Linked DNA regions of Homo sapiens: region 2 is linked to region 1. A link means that fine-mapping ties the variant in region 1 to the expression of a gene that starts in the linked region. Tissue or cell type: whole blood. Region 1 holds a variant in brackets; the other region holds the start of a gene. All regions are shown on one strand. Distances are from middle to middle.

What was found. PIP is the estimated chance that this variant, and not a neighbour inherited with it, causes the effect.
Region 2: it holds the start of CANX, and the variant in region 1 is fine-mapped to the expression of CANX in whole blood (TOPMed, PIP above 0.99).

The regions. Positions count from the first base shown.
Region 1 is chr5:179,815,292-179,818,044 of GRCh38, reverse strand. It overlaps a transcript of SQSTM1 not described here. Among named protein-coding and RNA genes, the nearest start is that of SQSTM1, 4.2 kb to the left of the region's middle. RefSeq lists silencers at 734-803, 914-1,363. The variant G/A (reference allele first, on the strand shown) is at 1,247.
Region 2 is chr5:179,697,523-179,700,127 of GRCh38, reverse strand. CANX (calnexin) reads right to left here and starts at 1,161. Exons shown (of 15, transcript NM_001746.4): 1 at 1,026-1,161. RefSeq lists silencers at 777-1,066, 1,107-1,516 and an enhancer at 1,527-2,056.

The DNA.
Region 1 (2,753 bases):
TCACTTTTTTTTTTTTTTTTTTTTTTTTTTTTGAGACAGTCTCTCTCTGTCACCCAGGCTGAAGTGCAGTGGCACGATCTCAGCTCACTGCAACCTCTGCCTCCCAGGTTCAAGCAATTCTCCTGCTCCTGCCTCAGCCTCCCAAGTAGCTGGGACTACAGGTGCCTGCCACCAAGCCTTGCTAATTTTTGTATTTTTAGTAGAGATGGGTTTCACTATGTTGGCCAGGATGGTCTTGAACTCCTGACTTCAGGTGATCCGCCCACCTCGGCCTCCCAAAGTGCTGGGACTGCAGGCGTGAGCCACCCGCCCGGCCAGGCATCACCCCCTTTTAGCCCTTTCAGACAAGCCCAAAGCCCAGGCAAGAGGCACGGGGGCCATGGGAGGGGCACGCCCACAAGGGGTTTGCAAAGATCTTTCTAAAAGAAAAGGAGTTCAAGTCATGGACAGACATGGTTAGAGAATTCAGTGATGCCAAGTTGTCAGGCCTGAGAGCCCCAGGGACCCTCTCCTACTGGAAGGCCAGAGCTGCAGAAAGAGGTCCCCTGGGCTGGGCGAATTTCTCCAAATAAATTCAAACATGGCCTGCCTCGGGACGGGGGCGAGACCCTGGGCCCTCAGGGGCACTGAGGGGTCGTCCATGCCGGGGGACATGGCCACTTGGGGGCGGCCCTCGTCAACCGCGGAGTGGGGAAAAGGGGGGAGGGATGGAGGACGAACGCCCGGCGGTGTCTAAAGGCACGACGCGGAGCAGGAACCACAGCCCTGGTCCCCAGAAAGCGCGCGCGGCCCGGGGCAGAACCTGCCGAAGTTCCAGCTCGGGGCGCAAGGGATGTGGGGGTCACTGGAAGACGGGGCGCGGGCCGCCCGTGGGGAGGAGACTGGACCCGAACCCGGCCCACCCCACCCGAGCGGCGACGCCAGCGCTGACCCCAGGCGTGTCCCGGCCCCCGGCGCGGCTCCGGCCCAACCGTGCACGCCCGCGGAAGGCCTCGCACCCGCGTCAGAAGTGGCCTGCCCGGGGCCACCGGCCCGCAAGTCCCCGGTGTTCTCGAGGTCCCTGCCCCGTCCCGCGCGGCTGTAGCCGGCGGGAGGGGCTGAGAGGCGGGTCGCGCTGGGACCTAAGGCGCCGCCCCCTCGCCAGCCTCTCCCTCCCTCCGTCACCGGGTGGCCGGAGACCCGGGGGCACTGCTGGGGTACCCCAAAGCATAGGGCCAGCCTGAGTGCGCAAGGTCCTGAAAAGACG[G/A]GGGGGCGGCGACAAGGAGTAGGGAGGGGGGCTGGAGGAAGACGGCAAAGTGACCCCGGAAGGGTCCAGGCGCCCCAAGCCCATCGAAGACGGGAGGCTCTCAGTGGCGCCTGGGGGGACTGTGGGAAAAGCAGCTCAAGAAGGGGAATCTGGAGCGAGGTGGGGGAGAGGTCGGCATGGCCTTCTCTAGGAGCGCCAGCGCCAGACAGAGCGGTGACAGGCCGCACCGGGAGTACCCCGTCTATACTGAACGGGTCAGGAGTGTGGGATCCCGTGGAGGGGCTGCCCTTGCAGCAGGAGCGATGGCCCTCTCGCTCCCCTCCACCTGCTGCCATCGAAAACCTTCTGGAAGAGGCCAGGCGCGGTGGCTCACACCTGTAGTCCCAGCACTGGGAGGCCGAGGTGGGCGGATCACGAGGTCAGGAGTTCGAGACCAGCCTGGCCAACAGAGTGAAACCCCATCTGTACTAAAAATTAAAAAAATTAGTTGGGCGTGGCGGCAGGTGCCTGTAGTCCCAGCTAGTCGGGAGGCTGAGGCAAGAGAATTGCTTGAGCCTCGGAGGCGGAGGTTGCAGTGAGCTGACATGGCGCCACTGCACTCCAATCTTGGTGCCTCAACAAAACAAAACAAAACAAAGAAAACCTTCTGGAAGAATTATCCTCCTTTGAGGATCTAACCCTTCTTGCTCCCAATGCTTCCCAGCAGGGCCCGCACCCCAGGACGGGTACTTACCGCAGTCCCCCACCTCCAGCTCTGCACACTCGCAGCCCAGTGCCCGCTCTTCCCCCTCAGCCTCCCGACGAGACTCAGCTCTTCGACCTCCCTGCGAGTCCCTGTGCACCCACTTTGTTCTGTGCCTGTCCCTGCCCTGACTATGTGGGCTCAGGTAGTTTTGTGGGGTGTGTGGATGTTGCGTGGGAGTGTATGTGTGCCCCGTGTGTCCCATGTGTTATAACCCTGATGCTCTGGAGCAGAAGGCGTGGGGTCATCTGTGGATAAAGGCTGGTATTGAAGCAGGGTCCCCCACCTGTGTTAGGCCACCACATACTCTTGCGTAAAAGTAGGGTGAGGTAAACCCCATGGCCAAAGCTTGGCCAACCAGAGCACTGTAGCACCCTGGTCAGGGATGGACATGTGACCCACGCTGGCGGACGAAATGCACACTGGGGTCATCTGGAAGCAGGAGCCTTGGGGAGGGGGGAATCCTGAGCAGATCAAAGCTTGATCTCAGTATCTGACCCCTGGATCCAGGCTGGCCTAATGCTGGGTTATAAAACGGCTTAAGCCAGTTGATTGTGGTTTTCGTCAATTGTATCCAAGAGTAGTGACCCATGACGTATACCCCATGCCTGCTCCAGGTTTTCTTTTCTTTTTTTTTTTCGAGACAGAGTCTTGCTCTGTTGCCCAGGCTGGGGTACAGTGGCTTGATCTCTGCTCACTGCAACCTCCACCTCTCGGATTCAAGCAATTCTTGTGCCTCAGCCTCCCAAGTAGCTGGGATTACAG
Region 2 (2,605 bases), 120 kb after region 1:
CGAAACAGGACTGAACCAGTTCACTAGGATGGCAGTGTATTGGTCCAAAGGCATTCAGATTATAATAACGTACCGCAATGATCATCGAGCAGTTACTAAATGTCGGACTTCCCTGTCTTATTGTATACATATCTTAATTTAATCCTCACAAATCCATCGGGTATTATTATATCCATTACTTGACAAGAACGGGGGCACAAAGGGTAAGAAAACTGCCGAAGTTCACAGAGCAACCAATGACCAATCAAAGACTCGAGCCAGGGCCTTAGCGTTAACCACTGCACGGTCTATCCCTGAACTATAATCCCAGCACCATCAGTACACTAATCGCATGACCTTGGGCCAGTCATTTCATACCTCCAGGCCTCCGGTGTGGAAAGAGATGCACTTAGATGAGCTTTCGGGGGCTTTCCTGCTTTTAACGCCCTGTCCCTCTCCAACTGGATTACTCGCCTCCAGAATAGGTGCTGTAACTGCTAAGTTTCTCAACCACTGCGTGTTCTCCTTCTGGTACATTCCCCTTTCTCTTCAGGGAACTAGGGTCCAGTCTCCGCTTTGGATTTTCAAATATTAAACTGTAACGCTAGTTGTAAACATTCCCTCTCGGTCTAATACCACCCTTCCCTACTACTAGGGGTACCTAGTAGGCCCGATTCCACCCTATACTTTTACCCAGTTACTCCAGCCCACCTCGCGGCTGCCCAGGCAGCCGGCAAAGAGGCCTAAGAAAGCCCTAGAAGCAAAGCCATAGGAATAAGTCAGCTTTCCCAGAGGTCAAAGAAGGCTGTCGGGCCACCTGCCACGCCTCCCGACCCCGGCGGCGCGGCCTGGGCCCGCAACCCAACCAAAGACGCCCGGATTCGGGCCTCCTCGCTCACGGCGGGCGCGTCGGCCAGGGCCTGGGCCCTCAAGAGCCAGCCCGACCCCTCAGTCGCCGGCCACGCCCGACCCCTCAGCCGCAGAGGCGCTCCCAGCCCCCCGAGGTCCTCACAGGCCCGAGGACGCGCTCAGGTCTCCCCTCTCACCTCTAGCCTCCCGGGGACCGCGGGGGTGCCCGTGCCCCTTCCCGCCCGCACACCTTGCCCCGCGCCGCAGTAAAGAGAGAGGCGGAGGCGGCCCGACCGTCACGTGCCGCAGAACCAAGAGGCCTCGGCCACCGCTGCCGCGCGAGCGAGCCCCACCGCACGAAGCCCGGCCCTGTGCCCGCCCCTGGCCCCTGAGTAGCCACAGCCGGCGCCAAGTCCCGCCCTCCCGCGCAAGCCCCGACATCCGGTTGGCCGGCGTGGGCATCGCTCTACGCACCGTCCCATACGCCCCCTACGGCTATTCTTCGTGGAGTGTGAAGATTGGCCGGGAGTGAGGCAGGAAGTGGCTGTTGGTTGGGCGGGAGGTGAGGGGCGGGCCACGCTGGATCGAGACCGCCGGGCGCGCGCGTCTCGGGGCGGGGCTGGTTTAACAGGCGTTCCCGCGTCGGTTGCTGTGGTGCCTTCGGGGCGTTCCAACCCAACCCCCAGTAGCCCTCACCCGTCTGGTTCCTGGAGCCGAGACTTGGGACGCATCGCGCGCCCTTCGCTGACGGGGCAAACGGCAGCCGGCAAAAGGGGTAGGAGTCCGACGATCGGCCATCAGGAAGGGCCCGTTGCAGCGAACGCGGGCCCCTACGGGCGTGAGCAGAACCCAGCGCGAGCGCCTGGCCGGATTGGCGTGCACTGCTCCGCGCTGTGTGAGCCGGCGCCGCAGTTCCTGCAGAGTCATGGCTCGGCCCAGGAGCCTGCGCAGCCTCGTCGCCCAGCATAACACACAGTCCAGAATAATATAATCCGAGGTTATTTGAACTTTCAATTTATGTTTCCTGAAGTGAGATTAGGTGTCAGGGCAGAGAGATACAGGGATGACAGGACGAGAGAAAGGATGGTGCCATGGAAAGATTTAAGATACGCCACCATTTTAGTAACCCACTCTTAGTACATCTTCAGTTTTCAGTATGCTGAGAACCTCACAAAATGGAAGTGGCCCAGGGTTTTTCTAGACCTTTAGAGATCCTGATCTCTTGTTCTCTATTTGTTTGGACACCCAAAGGCTTGACTACTAGGGTGGAAAACACTAGAATCAGCGAATGTATCACTGATCTGAAAAGCCCTCTTGCCACCGGGAAGGGGAAGAAAGGCAGGGTTTGGTGTTTGCATGAGTTAGTATCATCCAACCCTCAACCCCCAAATTTTTTTTATTTTTATTTTTTTGAGACGAAGTCTTGCTCTGTCGCTCAGGCTGGAGTCTAGTGGTGCGATCTTAGCTCACTACAACCTCCGCCTCCCGGGTTCAAGCGATTCTCCCTCAGCCTCCCGAGTAGCTGGGATTACAGGCGCCCGCCACCACGCCCGGCTAATTTTTGTATTTTAGTAGAGACAGGTTTCACCATGTTGGCCAGGCTGACCTCAGGTGATCGACCTGCCTCTGCCTCCCACAGTGCTGGGATTACAGGCGTGAGCCACGGCGCCCCAACTTCAGCCCCAAAATTTGTGTAGGAGAATTTTGGTTTCCTGTCTACCTGGGGAAGCAGCTATTCAAAGCAGAATAAAATTCTGGATGCTACATGATCCAAATA